2 separate regions of the Homo sapiens genome follow, and region 2 is linked to region 1. A link means that fine-mapping ties the variant in region 1 to the expression of a gene that starts in the linked region. Tissue or cell type: uterus. Region 1 holds a variant in brackets; the other region holds the start of a gene. All regions are shown on one strand. Distances are between the middles of the regions.

Region 1 (8,104 bases):
TACAAAAAATTAGCTGGGCGCAGTGGCGGGTGCCTGTAGTCCCAGCTACTCAGGAGGCTGAGGCAGGAGAATGGCGTGAACCCAGAAGGCGGAGCTTGCAGTGAGCCAAGATCACGCCACTGCACTCCAGCCTGGGAGACAGAGCGAGACTCCGTCTCAAAAAAAAAATAAGAAAGAAATTTAACACTGTTTCAAATATTTATTGGGCATATGAACATGCTACTTTGTGAAATGTCAATTCACGCCATTCGTCCATTTTTCGACTGGTTTTTCTGCCTTTTTTAAAAAACAGGTTAGTAGGAGTTATTTCTTTATTTTTCTTATGAGTCTTTTGTTAGAATACATATTCTTCTCCCACTCTCTGGCTTGTCTTTTCATTCTCTTAATGGTATTTTTTGATGAGGATCAGTTTCTATTTTAATATAGTCCAATTTATCAACATTTTCCTTTATAGTTAAGGCTCCTTTGTTTCTGGTTTAAGAAATATTTTCTGGCCAGGCACACTGGCTCATGCCTGTAATCTCAGCACTTTGGGAGGCTGAGGAGGGAGGATCATATGAGCCTAGGAGTTCGAGACCAGCCTGGGCAACATAGCGAGACCCTATCTCTATTAACACAAACAAGTAAATAAAAGAAATATTTTCTTACCCTGAAGGTTCTGAAGATACTCTATGATATTTTCTTCTAGAAGTTTTATTGTTTAAGCTTTAACATTTAGATCTACAACACATCTGGAATCAATTTTTGTGTATGGTGTGAGGTAGAGGTCATATGGTTATCAACTGGCTCAGCCCTATTTATCCAAAAAGATCATCTTTTGCTTCTCACTGCACTGAAATGTTGCTTTTGTCATAAACCAAGTTACCGTATATGTGTGAACTTTTCCTGATTTTTCCGTCTTGTTCTTTTGGTCTATTTGTTTTTCCTTGCAAGAGTATGCTGCTTTAATTATTATTATAATAAGCCTTGCTCTCTGGAAAGTACTCTGGCTTTTTTTGTTTTTGACAAAGGGAATTTGTTGACTTATAGAACCGAGCTATATAACTAGCTTCAGGCATAACTGGATCCAGGCACTAAAATGAATCTTTAGCAATACCGCTCATTTCCCATCTGGGCTTTACTTTTCTGTATCTTGACTTCCCTCTCAGGCAGAATCTCTTCCCTCACGGTGACAAACAGGGCCCACAGCAGCTCGAAGCTTCCATACTATCATTTTAACAACCTAGCTTATCATTTTAACAACCTAGCAGAAAAGGGGTACTGCCTTCCTGAATGGTGATACCAAAGTCTCAAGGTTAGCTCTCATTGGCCCAACTTGGGTCACATGTCCATTTCTATAGTAACCATGTGTCTTAGTCCATGTTGTCTTGCTATAAAGGAAAACCTGACGCTGGGTAATTTTTATTTTATTTTATTATTTTTTTTTTGAGACAGGATCTTGCTCTGTCACCTAGGCTGGAGTGCAGTGGCGCAATCTTGGCTCACTACAATGTCCGCCTCCCAGGTACAAGTGATTCTCCTGCCTCCAGTGTAGCTGGTATGACAGGTGCCCGCCACCACACCTGGCTAATTTTTTGTATTTTTAGTAGAGACAGGGTTTCACCATGTTAGCCAGGCTGGTCTCGAACTCCTGACCTAAAGTGATCCACGAGGCTGGGTAATTTATAAAGAGAAAAAGGTGTATTTGGCTTATGATTCTGCTGGCTGGAAGATTGGGCATACAGAGAAAGTCTAGAGCTACTTCCACTCTTGGTGGAAGGAGAAAGAAAGCAGGGATCATGTGACAATAGAGGAAGCAAGAGAGGCAAGTGTCAGCCTCTCTTTAACAACCAACTCTAATGGGAACTAATGGAGGAAGAACTCACTCACCCACACTCCCAGGGAGGGCATTAATCTATTTGTGAGGGGTCCACCCCTGTGACCCAAACACCTCTCATTAGGACCCCATCTCCAACATTGGGGATCCAATTTCAAGAACGAAATTTAGAAGGCAGCCTGGCCAACACGGGGAAACCCCGTCTCTCCTAAAAATACAAAAATTAGCCGGGCGTGGCATGTGCCTATAATCCCAGCTACTCAGGAGGCGGAGGCAGAAGGGTCACTTGAACCCAGGAGGTGGAGGTTGCACTGAGCCAAGATTGTGCAACTGCACTCCAGCCTGGGTGACAAAGCAAAACTCTGTCTCAAAAAAAAAAAAAAAAAATTGGATGGGACATACATCCAAACTACTGCACATCATAACCAAGGTCATGAAGTACTCAGGTTGGCCAGGTCTGACTCTTGTTCTCACTCTGAGATCCCTGGCAAGATCCAGTCAAAAAATGTATATTTTGCATGGAGAGGAGTGATAGGAAAATCAGATGTTTAAGAGAATAAAAAGAGAAGCTATAGATTGTGAGAAAATCTTTTCAAAACACCTATCAGACAAAAAGCTGGTATCCAGGCCAGGTGTGGTGGCTCACATCTGTAATCCCAGCATTTTGAGAGGCTGAGGTGGGCGGATCACCTGAGGTCAGGAGTTTGAGAGCAGCCTGGCCAACGTGGCAAAACCCTGTCTCTACTAAAAATACAAAAATTAGCCTGGCATGGTGGTGGGTGCCTGTAATCCCAGCTACTCGGGAGGCTGAAGCAAGAGAATCACTTGAACCTGGGAGGCGGAGGTGGCAGTGAGCTAAGATTGCGCCATTGCACTCCAGCCTGGGCAACAGAGCAAGACCTTGTCTGAAAAAAAAGAAAAGAAAGAAAGAAAAAGAAAAAGAGAAAAGAAAGCTGGTATACAAAGAACTAAAACTTAACAATAAGAAAACAAACAACCCGCTCCCTCTCCATCTCCCTCTCCCTCTCCCTCTCCCTCTCCCATCTCCCCACGGTCTCCCTCTCCCTCTCTTTCCACAGTCTCCCTCTCCCTCTCTTTCCACGGTCTCCCTCTGATGCCGAGCCGAAGCTGGACTGTACTGCTGCCATCTCGGCTCACGCAACCTCCCTGCCTGATTCTCCTGCCTCAGCCTGCCAAGTGCCTGCCATTGCAGGCACACGCCGCCACGCCTGACTGGTTTTCGTATTTTTTTGGTGGAGACGGGATTTCGCTGTGTTGGCCAGGCCGGTCTCCAGCTCCTAACCGCGAGTGATCCGCCAGCCTCGGCCTCCCGAGGTGCCGGGATTGCAGACGGAGTCTGGTTCACTCAGTGCTCAATGGCGCCCAGGCTGGAGTGCAGTGGCGTGATCTCGGCTCGCTACAACCTCCATCTCCCAGCCGCCTGCCTTGGCTTCCCAAAGTGCCAAGATTGCAGCCTCTGCCCGGCCACCACCCCGTCGGGGAAGTGAGGAGCATCTCTGCCTGGCCGCCCATCGTCTGGGACGTGAGGAGCCCCTCTGCCTGGCTGCCCAGTCTGGAAAGTGAGGAGCGCCTCTTCCCGGCTGCCATCCCATCTAGGAAGTGAGGAGCACCTCTTCCCGGCCGCCATCCCATCTAGGAAGTGAGGAGCGTCTCTGCCTGGCCGCCCACCGTCTGAGATGTGGGGAGCGCCTCTGCCCCGCCGCCCCGTCTGGTATGTGAGGAGCGCCTCTACCCGGCCGCGACCCCGTCTGGGAGGTGAGGAGCGTCTCTGCCCGGCCGCCCCGTCTGAGAAGTGAGGAGACCCTCCGCCTGGCAACCGCCCCGTCTGAGAAGTGAGGAGCCCCTCCGCCCGGTAGCCACCCCGTCTGGGAAGTGAGGAGAGTCTCCGCCCGGCAGCCACCCCATCCGGGAGGGAGGTGGGGGTCAGCCCCCGCCAGGCCAGCAGCCCCGTCCGGGAGGGAGGTGGGGGGGTCAGCCCCCCTCCCGGCCAGCCGCCCCGTCTGGGAGGTGAGGGGCACCTCTGCCCGACCGCCC[T/C]TACTGGGAAGTGAGGAGCCCCTCTGCCCGGCCGCCCCTACTGGGAAGTGAGGAGCCCCTCTGCCCGGCCACCACCCCGTCTGGGAGTTGTACCCAACAGCTCATTGAGAACAGGCCATGATGACAATGGCGGTTTTGTGGAATAGAAAGGGGGGAAAAGTGGGGAAAAGATTGAGAAATCGGATGGTTGCCGTGTCTGTGTAGAAAGAAGTAGACATGGGAGACTTTTCATTTTGTTCTGTACTAAGAAAAATTCTTCTGCCTTGGGATCCTGTTGATCTGTGACCTTACCCCCAACCCTGTGCTCCCTGAAACATGTGCTGTGTCCACTCAGGGTTAAATGGATTAAGGGCAGTGCAAGATGTGCTTTGTTAAACAGATGCTTGAAGGCAGCATGCTCGTTAAGAGTCATCACCACTCCCTAATCTCAAGTACCCAGGGACACAAACACTGCGGAAGGCCGCAGGGTCCTCTGCCTAAGAAAACCAGAGACCTTTGTGCACTTGTTTATCTGCTGACCTTCCCTCCACTATTGTCCTATGACCCTGCCAAATCCCCCTCTGCGAGAAACACCCAAGAATGATCAATTAAAAAAAAAAAGAAAAAAGAAAACAAACAACCCAATTTAAAAATAGGCAACAGATCTGAACAGACACTTCAACAAAGAAGATATGCAGATGGCAAATAAGTAAATAAAAAGGTGTGGTGGGGTGGCTCCTGCCTGTAATCCCAACACTTTGGGAGGCTGGGGCAGGAGGATCATTTGAGGCCAAGAGTTTCAGACCAACCTAGGCAACACATTGAGACGCCATCTCTATAAAAAATAAAAAGAAAAAGGTCAGATGTTGTGGCTCACACCTGCAATCCCAGCACTTTGGGAGGCCACAGCTGGTAATTCCCTTGAGCTCAGGAGGTCAAGACCAGCCCAGGCAACGTGGTGAAACCCCATCTCTACGAAAAATACAAAAAATTAGCCAGATGTGGTGGTGCACACCTGTGGTCTCAGCTACTTGGAAGGGTGAGGTCGGAGGATCACTTGAGTCTAGGAGGCAGAGGTTGCAGTCAGCAGAGATCGTGCCACTGCATTCCAGCCTGGATGACAGAGCGAGACCCTGTTTCTAAATAAATAAATAAATAAAATAATAAAAATAGAAATAAAAAAATAGCCAGGTGTGACAGCACACAACTGTAGTCCCAGCTACTGGGGAGGCCGAGAAGGAGGATCTAAGAGTTGGAGGCGGCAGTGAGCTATGATTGCACTGCTGTACTCCAGCCTGGGCAACAGAGACCCTGTTTCTTAAAATAAATAAATAAACAAACAAACAAATAAATAAAAGGTACTTGGGCCGGGCGTGGTGGCTCACACCTGTAATCCCAGCACTTTGGGAGGCCAAGGTGGGCAGATCACCTGAGGTCAGGCATTCGAGACCAGCCTGATCAACATGGAGAAACCCCATGTCTACTAAAAATACAAAATTAGCCAGGCGTGGTGGTGCATGCCTGTAATCCCAGCTACTTGGGAGGCTGAGACAGGAGAATCACTTGAACCTGGGAGGCAGATGTTGCAGTGAGCCGAGATCATGCCATTGCACTTCAGCCTCGGCGACAGAGCAAGACTCTGTCTCCAAAAAAAAAGGGGGCTCAACATCAAATGTCATTAGGAAATTGCAAATTAAAGCAATGATGACATACGACAACCACCTATTAGAATGGTGAAAATCCAAAACATGAATAACACCAAGTGCTGATGAGGATGAGGAACGTCAGGAACTCTTATTCATCTCTGGCAGTAATGCAAAATGGTGCAGCCACTTTAGAAGACAATTTGGCACTTCCTTACAAAACTAAACACTCTTACCATATATTGCAGCACTCATGTTCCTTGGTATTTACTCAAATGAGCTCAAAACTTATATCCCCACAAAAACCTGAAGACAAATATTCATAGCGGCTCTGTACATAATTGCCAAAACTTGGAAGCAACCAAGATGTCCTTCAGTAGATGAACAAACTGCAGTACATGCATACAATGGAATATTACTCAGTTATAATAAGCCATGAAAAGATATGGAGGAACCTAAAATGCATATTGTTAAGTGAAAGAAGCCAATACGAAATCGCTACATATGGTATGATTCCAACTATACCACATTCTGGAAAAGGAAACACTATAGAGACAGTTAAAAAAAATCATTGGTTTTTAGGGGTTTGGGAGGAGGGAAGGATGAATCAGCAGAGCCCAGAGGAGTTTTAGGACAGTGAAACTACTCTGCATAATACTATAATGGTGGACACATGTCATTATAAATTTGTTCAAACCCATAGACAATAAAACACTAAGAGAGAAACTGAATGTAAACTATGGACTTTCCTCTCAATTTTGCTGTGATTTTAAAACTGAAAAAAAAAAAAAAAAAAAAAAAAAAAGGCCTGGCGCGGTGGCTCATGCCTGTAATTCCAGCACTTTGGGAGGCCAAGGTGGGCAGATCATGAGGTCAGGAGATCGAGACCATCTTGGATAACACGGTGAAACCCCGTCTCTACTAAAAATACAAACAATTAGCCGGGCGTGATTGCGGGCACCTGTAGTCCCAGCTACTCAGGAGGCTGAGGCAGGAGAATGGTGTGAACCCAGGAGGTGGAGCTTGCGGTGAGCTGAGATCACGCCACTGCACTCCAGCCTGGGTGACACAGGAAGACTCCATCTCAAAAAAAAAAAAAAAAAAACAACACCAAAAAAATGCTTTATTAAAAAAAAAAATAGAATGTACAAGGTATCACACAAGGAGTGGACCTTAATGTAAACTGCAGATTTCAGCTAATAATAATGTATCAATATTGGCTTATTAATTGTAACAAACGTAGCACAGTAACACAAGATGTTAACAGGGAAGATGAGGGGCAATGAAGGGATGAAAGGGGATGTAGAAACTCTCGGTACTTTTCATTCGATTTTTTCCTGTAAACCTAAGACTGCTCCAAAAAAAATTATTAATGAAGAAGAAAATCAGAGATAACAGATGTCACTCAGGCAAAAATATCAGGTGTCCATTATAAGGATCCAAGTTGCCCCTAGGTATTCACTCTAATAACAGTTTGCAACTTGGGGTATGCAGTATAGAAGGGATAAAGAGGCTGGCGCAGTGGTTCACGCCTGTAAGCCCAGCAGTCTGGAAAGCGGAGGCGGGCGGATCACCTGAGGTCAGGAGTTGAAGACCAGCCTGGCCAAAATGGGGAAACCTCGTCTCTATTAAAAATACACAAAATTGCCAGACATGGTGGCACGCGCCTGTAATCCCAGCTACTGGGTCGCTGAGGCAAAGGAATTGCTTGAACCTGGGAGGCGGGGGTTGCAGTGAGCCAAAATTGCGCCACTGCACTCCAGCCTGGGCAACAGAGTAAGACTCCACCTCAAAATAAAAATAAATAAATAAATAAATAATTAAATTTAAAAAAAGGCCAGGTAGCGGTGGCTCACACCTGTAATCCCACCACTTTGGGAGGCTGAGGCGGGCAGATCACAAGGTCAGGAGATAGAGACCATCCTAACACAGTGAAACCCTTTCTCTACTAAAAATACAAAGAATTAGCTAGGCGTGGTGGCACGTGCCTGTAGTCCCAGCTACTCGGGAGGCTGAGGCAGATGAATCACTTGAACCCGGAAGGCAGAGGTTGCAGTCAGCCAAGATCGCACCACTGCCCTTGAGCCTCAGCGACGGAGCAAGACTCCATCTCAAAAAGAAGCCAAAAATACAAAAATTAGCCAAGTGTGGTAGTGTGCGCCTGTAACCTCAGGGTGAGAGAGGAGACTCTCTTCAACCCAGAAGGCAGAGGTCGAGATCATAAGACTGCACTCCACCCTAGGCAACAGAGCAAGACTCCATCTCAAAAGATATATTGCAGTAATTTAAAAACAATTCTATTGGAAACGCAATTTCTTCCTGTCGAGACCTCCCTTTATGACGGAACAATGAAAAAACAATTTTTTTCAATTTTGTCCAGGTTAGCTTCAAACACATAGCATCGCCAGCTTGTGCGCCAGGACAACCTGACGGAGCCACCGAAGCTGGTGGAAAAGTGCTCTCAATTTTTCCATTTGACCTTCTGGGGAGCGATGTAGCCAATCACGAGAGGCTCACCCCTGACATCACCCAGTCCCCAGGGACAGAGAGGGCCCTGCGTTCCATGGCGCCCCCTGGAGGGAGGAAGGGGAACTGTATCTGAGAGTTCAGT
Region 2 (8,104 bases), 61 kb before region 1:
CCTGGCCCATAGGATCCATGGGCACAAGAAATGGTGGTTCTACACCAGTGAATTGTGGGACGATTTGTTCTCTAGACATAGTAACCGGGACAGGGAGTCCCTGCTGCACAGAGAGGTCAAGTCACTCACTTAAGACGGTTCTCATTTCATGACAGTTCAGTATGTGCAGACCACTGTGCTAAGTTCTCGGCAGGTATTATCTACAGAACCTTCCCAATCACCCTTTTCAAGGTAAGAATGATTTCCCCTTTGGGGAGATGAGAAGCAGAGGCTCAGAGAGCAAATGACTTGCCCAGGGCCACAAACCTCTTAAGCGGCGAGCCAGACACATGATTTTGTTTAATCTTTCCCTCCACTCTATGAGGTAGGGATGATTATCCCATCTTTGAAACCTACAAAATGATGCTCAAAGGGTGACAATTCTCCTTCCCCCAGACCTGACTCCACTCACCTAGAAAACAGTGGGGACGCAGCTGAAATCCAGAACCCAAAAGCCCATGTTCTTCACCTGGTGCCAATTTATACAACGAAAACGCAAAACCGGACTGGGTTCTTGGGGCAGCAGGTCAGAACATTCTTGTAGATTTAAATCTGGAAGCTGATGTTGGGTGTGGAACCACGGCAAGAGAGTCTTTTAACCATGTGCCACCCCCGGTTCTGACACCGTCACCAGCCTGGTCTAGGCCACCATCTCTCCCTTGTGCTACTGCAGCAGCCTCCTAACTAGACTTTCGGCTTCTACGCTTGTCCCTACAATCTATTTTCAACCCAGTAGCTTGACGGATCCACTTAAAATCTAAGTCAGACCCTGTCTGTGTCCCTGCCCTGGCCCATATGGTGGGTCGGACACGGTGGCTCACGCCTGTGATCCCAGCACTTTGGGAGGCCGAGGTGGGCGGATCACGTGAGGTTAGGAGTTCCAGACCAGCCTGGACAACATGGTGAAACCCCGTCTCTACTAAAAAAGTACAAAAAAAAAAATCAGCCGGGCGTGGTGGTGGGCACCCGTAATCCCAGCTACTTGGGAGGCTGAGGCGCAAGAGTCGCTTGAACCTGGGAGGCAGAGGTTGCAATGAGCCAAGATTGCACCGCTGCACTCCAGCCTGGGCAACAGAGCAAGACTCAGTCTCATAAATAAACAAATAAATAAATAAAATGTAAGTCAGACCCTGTCCCTCCTCTACTCAAAACCGTATGGTGGATTTCATTTTAGACAGAATAAATGCTGAAATTCCTACCATGGCCCAGGAGCCCCCTGTATGATCTGCCACTTCCCTGTTCCCTCTCTGACCTCTCCCACCTCTCCCCTTGCTCACGCTGAGTCAGCCACAACAGCTTCGGTGCTTTTCCCCAATCGTGACAAGAACGTTTCTTCCCCAAGACCTTTGCACCTGCTCTCCCATCTGCCTGGAACGCTGTCCCCCTAAGAGTGCACACAGTTAACTTCCTCATCACATTCTTTAGCTCTCTGTTCAAATGTCACCTTCTCAGAGACCTTCTTGGACACGATTTTACTGTGTTTTTTCTTTTCTTTTTTTTGAGATGGAGTTTGGCTCTTTTCGCCCAGGCTGGAGTGCAATGGCACGATCTCGGCTTACTGCAAACTCTGCCTCCCGAGTTCAAGTGATTCTCCTGCCTCAGCCTCCCATGTAGTTGGGATTACAGATGCGTGTCACCACGCCTGGCTAATTTTATATTTTTAGTAGAGATGGGGTTTCACCATGTTGGCCAGGCTGGTCTTAAACTCCTGACCTCAGGTGATCCCCCTCAGCCTCCCAAAGTCCTGGGATTACAGGCTCGAGCCACCGTGCCTGGCCCTGGACACCATTTTACTAATAGCATGTTTTATCCTCCTTACCTTGCTTTATTTTTCTTCACAGTGCTTGTCACTACCTGACATACTCTGACTTACTAGAATGTAAGCTTCATGATGGCGGGGACTTTTCCCTGCCTTGTTTGCCACAGTGTGCCCAGAGCCTCAAACAGGCCTGGCACAGAGCAAATGCTGGGTCTACGTCTGCTGAGTGAATAAATCATTGTCTCCTTTGCAAAAGAAAATGTGCCAAGAAGGTGGGTGGGGGGGGTCCCCAGCTGTGTCAGTACACATTCATCTCTCAGGCAAATCTAGACATCCAGCCAGAGACTCAAAGCTCAGGGCCGGAATTATCTAGCTGGATGGTCCCTAAAAAAGACGTGCCACTTAGAAGCAGATCAGTACAGGGGTTAAGAGGATAAACTTGGGAAATAATCTGCCTGGGTTTGGATCTTGCTTCTGCCATGTATTGCATGATGGACAGAGTTTTGCTATGTCACCCAGGTTGGAGAGCAGTGGCACGACCTCAGCTCACTTGCAACCTCCGCTTCCTGGGTTCAAGCGATTCTCCCTGCCTCAACCTCCCGAGTAGCTGGGATTACAGGCGCATGCCACCATGCCCGGCTAATTTTTTTATTTTTAGTAGAGATGGGGTTTCACCATGTTGGCCAGGCTGGTCTCGAACTCCTGAACCCAGGTGATCCGCCCACCTCGGTCTCCTAAAGTGCTGGGACTACAGGCGGGAGCCACCGTGCCCAGCCAAATTTTTTGGATTTTAGAACCTATTACATATTACAACACCGGCGAGATCCAGGGGCAACTCTCCATAAGTATATGATTTGCACAACAAAATCTTTAAAAATTCTAAATAGTCACACATCAGTTCAGAGTGGGTATTGCCAGCAAACAAGTTCAAAGCCAGGTGAGGTTGGCCTGCCAAGTAAGTTGCAAAACAGAGAAAAAGACCTTTCAGTTTTCAGAACGTTTTGGATTTTAAAGTTATAGATAAGGGACTGCAGACCTGTAAATATTCTTTAACATTTCTTTTTTAGTGTCTGGCATCCCCAACCACCCTGAGAATGTGAATTAGCTGGGCAGGATTTTTGTTTTAGACACTGCTATAATAACCTGGGCTTGAACAGTGCCTATTAGACTAGCACCGTTCAAACCCAGGTTATAGTAGTGTAATATCGGTTGCACGGAGCCTTCCATATAGTAAACGCTCAATAAAATTGGATGTGCTGAAGTCACCTATGCAATGGCCAGGTCAGGACTTGAAACCCTAAGACTCCAACCCTCAGGCCAGTCTTTATCTTAATTTATTTGACTTATTCAACAAATGTTTAGGGAACAGCTGCTATGCGTCAACTACTGTATAGTGTTCCTCCTAGAAAGTTCAGGAAACAGCACAGCAAAAAGGCTAAAAGTCAGACCCCACCTCAGCGCAGGTGGGGCGATTGCCTAGGCGACGACAGAGCCTCCCTTCGGCCGCACCTCCATAGAAACCACGGGATGACTTAGACGCCAAGTTTCACAGCGGAGGAGCTGTCGAACTTCCCACAAGTTCCGCCCATCTCCGCCTTAGCCATGCCCAACACGGAGCCCAAGGTGGCTTGGGAAGCTCAAGAGGAGGCCAGTGAACCCCGCGACCCGGAGCCGCTCTCATTCCGAACCCCGACAGCAGGGGCCTCCGCCTCCCACAAACGGTCGTGCTGACGTCACGGACGCCCCGGCCGAGCTGCGGCTAGGGGGTCGGGGGACGTCCCCTCGTTCGCCTCGCTTCCCCTCACCTCTGTACTTGGGGACTGGGGTGGGATTCTGGGCTTCTGCAGCCTGACCCTCGGATCCTCCGCAGTTACCCGGACTCACCTTCTCAGTTGCCCAGCGAAAACTTCCGCTGGGCGGAGAGCGCTGCGCGCGCATCCTGAATCTGAGGCGCCCGCGCAGGCGCCGCTGACTTCCTGACGGCCCCTGGGCTTCGCCTGCCTGGGAACTCCGTTTCCCAGATGCCTCCGCGGCAGGCCCGCCCTCTGATTCCAGACGGAATGGGGATTATTCCCTCATTGCTCATCCCCCTCCCCTCCGTTCTAGCCGCTTTGGAACGCCTTCTGGTTCTACTGCGCATGTGTCAGTGTCAGACCAATCGGAATGCACCGTGAGGTACCTCTCCACCAATCAGAGGTCACATTACCTAAACTTCTGCCTCAACTCCGCCCCTTACTTCCGCTTGTTTTCTCAGAAACCCGTCACAACGCGTTTCCATGGCAACCTACCGCTTGCTCTTCGGAAAAGGTTAACACTCCCTGACTTCTAGTAAAGGCAAGAAGCTAATTAGATGATTCTTTAACAAGGTAAAAATCTGGACTACAAACTGATGCCGCCTGGTCCTGATTCTCTTTCTACTCTACTCCCACAGTGCTAAGGCTGAAGAAGCAGGAGGAGATGGGAAGGCGAAAGAAGTCGCCCGCACAGCCCTCTGGGAAATAGAGTCCTGGCGCTGCCGCGGAGGATCCTGGGTGCAGCCGCTCAGAGAAGCTTCTCGCGCACAGGAAGTCGCTGCGAGGAGGCGCGTGTGCGGGGAGTTGAATCTCCCGCTCCCTTGAGGCTGGGGTTGCGTCTGTTGACGCGGCCGACTACAATCCCGAGGTACGGAGACGCTGGGGCTGAGGGACTTGCGGGCTCGGTCCTTCCTGAGAGGTGACGGAATGCAAGTGGGGGCGACTTCGGCAAAGGGTGCGTCGCCTTGGGCGGCGGTTGTCAGGGTGAAGGTGTGAACCGTCTTTCACAGTCTGTTATGAAAACCGCTCAAGGTCTGGGCACGGTAGATCACGCCTGTAATCCCAGCACTTTGGGAAGCCTTGGCGGGGGGGATCACTTACAGCCAGGAGTTCCTCGAACCCCCAGTCTCTACTAAAAATACAAAAATTAGTTGAGCGTGGTGGCGGGGGCCTGTAATCCCAGCTACTCAGGAGGCTGAGGCAGGAGAATCGCTTGAACCCAGGAGCTGGAGGTTGCAGTGAGCCGAGATCGCGCCATTGCACTCCAGCCTGGGTGACAGAGCGAGACTACATCTTAAAAAAAAAAAAAAAAAAAGAAAGGAAGAAAACCACCTTGGGAGGCTGAGGTGGGCGGATCGCTTGAGCCCAGGATTTCGAGGCTAGCCTGGGCCAGATGGTGAAGCCCTGTCTCCACAAAAGAAGAAAAAAATAGAAAAATTAGCCGGGCGTGGTGGTGCGCCCCTGTATTCCTAGCTAATTGGGAGGCCGAGGTGGGAGGATTGCTTGAACCCAGGAGGCAGAGGTTGCAGTGAGCTGAGAAAGAAAAGAAAAGAAAAGAAAACTGCTAAAGGGGTTTCCAGGCCTCCCTGATGGCCCTGAGAGGAGTGGTTCTGTTTTATTTTGGTTTTGGTTGGGGAAGGAGGGGAATGAGTTACCTGAAGTTGGCAAATTTAGGCAGAATCTTGCTGGACGATGGATGGGAGTTCTTCGGGAAGTTGAAGTACTTAACATTTACAGTATTTGAGTGCTTTCTGTGTGCCAGGCGCCCTGCTGGAGTTGCATTTCCTCTTCTGATCCCCGCAGCAGCACTGAGACATAAGTGCAGGTCCCCTTGGCACCAAGGCAATCTCGGGAATCAGAATTTTTCAGATTTTAGAAAGCTAATAGGGTGCATATTTTATAATTAGGCAGCACCCCCCCACACCCCGAGGAATCTGGGCCAGTTTTTGGTCATAAAATGTTTCTGTGGGGCAAGGTGTGAATATTCACACTTATGAGAACATTAAGACCCTACATGGCCTGTGGCAATCCAGGTGAAGTTTTGCGGTCAGTTTATAAATCAAGTTCTGGTTTTTGGAGCATTTAAAGGACCATAGATCTGTTGTATTTGTTCCATTTGGTACATGTGGAAACTAAGGCTTAGAGAAGGTAAATGGTCTGGAAGGAAGGGCAAGACTCTTGGGCCCAAGGTCTCTCAGCCTGATAATTGTTTGGCTTAAGTCACTCTGGGCTGGATGACCTTGGGCTCCACCTCTGGGCCCTCGTTTCTTTCCTCCCAGAGCTGAGAGTATATGAGATGTGGGCAGAATGTGATTTGGTAACTGCAGACAGGGATCTCAAGCTCAGCTGTCTGTGAGGGCCAGGCAGATGACATACAGGAAAGAAGAGAACTGGTCCAGGTGAGGCTGCGGGGCCTTGGGGAGCACTTGCCTCATCTGAAGGGGAGAATTGTGTTTTTTTTTTGATGACAGAGTCTCGCTCTGTCACCCAGGCTGGAGTTCGGTCTCACTGGAACCTCCACCTCCCCGGTTGAAGCGATTCTCCTGCCTCAGCCTCCCAAGCAGCTGGAATTACAGGCGTGCACCACCATGCCTGGCTAATTTCTGTATTTTTGGTAGATACGGGGGTTTCACCATGTTGATCAGGCTGGTCTTGGACTCCAAACTTCAGGTGATCCGCCTGCCTTGGCCTCCCAAAGTGCTGGGATGGCAGGCATGAGCCACTGCACCCAGCCGCTTTTTAAACTTAAATTTAATTTTTTTGGCCGGGTGTGGTGGCTCATGCCTGTAATCCCAGCACTTTGGAAGGCCGAGGTGGGTGGATCACGAGGTCAGGAGATCGAGACCATCCTGGCTAACACGGTGAAACTCCGTCTCTACTAAAAATACAAAAAATTCTCCGGGCGTGGTGGCAGGCGCTTGTAGTCCCAGCTACTCAGGAGGCTGAGGCAGGAGAATGGCATGAGCCCGGGAGGCAGAGCTTGCAGCGAGCTGAGATCGCGCCACTGCACTCCAGCCTGGGCGACAGAACGAGACTCCGTCTCAAAAAAAAAAAAAAAAACAAATTTAATTTTTTTTTGGAGGCAGGATCTTTCTCTGTCATTCAGGCTGGAGTACAGTGACACAATCATAGCTCACTGCAGCCTTGAACTCCTGGGCTCAAGTGATCCTCCTACCTCAGCCTCCCAAGCGATCCTCCTACCTCAGTCTCCCAAGTAGTTGGGACTACAGGCACGTGCCACCACAACTTGCTCATTTTTAATTTTTTTTTTTTAGAAACAAGGTCTTGTTACGTTGCCCAGGCTGGTCTCGAACACCTTTCAGCCTCCCAAAGTGCTGGGATTATAAGCATCCCCCACTTGCCTAGCACTGGTGGGGGAGCTTTAAATGGGCACCAGTGAACTAACTTCGTGGGATGTAGACCCAATGTTGCCAAATCCTAGGATGTTTCAGAAGTTGGAAACATAATTTTTAGGTGAAATTTCCCAATTTTCAAGTTTGAGACTAGTGAGCCATGCTTGAATTTTCTTTCAAAACATTCTGTCTGCCAACAAACATTATGGGCCAAATATCTGTCAACTGAGTTATACTCGTAGGTTGAGGCTTAACCTCTGACATGTAGAAAAACTCATTGTTCAGTAGAATTAGCATTTATTGTAGGTCTACCATATTCCCATATTTGTAGTCTCAAAAATCTGGACAACTCAGAACAACAAATTTTTTTTCATAAATTTAGTGTCCGTGCCTTACCTGAACTACTACAGGGTATTTTTTAAATATAACTTTAAATTATTCTACCTAGAATGAACGATGATACTTTTCTCTAGGGTAAAGTGTTCAATTATGAAATGCAGCCTGATCCACACTGCGCTGGGACTTTGTTTTGTTTTGTTTTTGTTTTTGTTTTTGAGACGGAGTCTCGCTCTGTCGCCCAGGCTGGAGTGCATGGCGCCATCTCGGCTCACTGCAAGCTCCACCTCCCGGGTTCACACCATTCTCTCGCCTCAGCCTCCTGAGTAACTGGGACTACAGGCGCCCACCACCATGCCTGGCTAATTTTGTTATTGTATTTTTAGTAGAGACGGGGTTTCACCGCGTTAGCCAGGATGGTCTGGATCTCCTGACCTCGTGATCCGCCTGCCTTGGCCTCCCAAAGTGCTGGGATTACAGGCATGAGCCACTGCGGCCAGCCCTGCACTGGGATTTTAATGAAATATGCCATGTATATGCCATATCACCTTTTGAAAATAAAAGTTGAATTTCAAAGCACATCTGGCCTTGGAGTTTGAAGAATTTGTGGACCTGTGTCATTGTTAAGTGATCCGTGCTGCTTTGTGATATGAAATGCTTTCAGCACTCCGCAGATATGTGCTACTTGGTCCACGCAGTGGATACAAATGGGTAAAAATGTCTGTGGTACAGTTTTGCGTATTATGGGTCATGAAAATAACTAGGTGGGCAGTGACTATGATTTTTTAATGAAGTAGAATAAAAGAGACTAGAATAGAAAACAT

What was found. PIP is the estimated chance that this variant, and not a neighbour inherited with it, causes the effect.
Region 2: it holds the start of ZNF473, and the variant in region 1 is fine-mapped to the expression of ZNF473 in uterus (GTEx, PIP 0.97).

Annotation. Positions count from the first base shown.
Region 1 is chr19:50,082,869-50,090,972 of GRCh38, forward strand. No RefSeq gene overlaps it. Among named protein-coding and RNA genes, the nearest start is that of SNAR-A4, 5.7 kb to the right of the region's middle. The variant T/C (reference allele first, on the strand shown) is at 3,872.
Region 2 is chr19:50,021,664-50,029,767 of GRCh38, forward strand. It overlaps ZNF473 (zinc finger protein 473), which reads left to right and starts at 4,342. Exons shown (of 5, transcript NM_015428.4): 1 at 4,342-4,459. It overlaps VRK3 (VRK serine/threonine kinase 3), which reads right to left and starts at 3,709. Exons shown (of 15, transcript NM_016440.4): 1 at 3,604-3,709. RefSeq lists enhancers at 3,015-3,516, 3,566-3,645, 3,986-4,035, 4,446-4,495.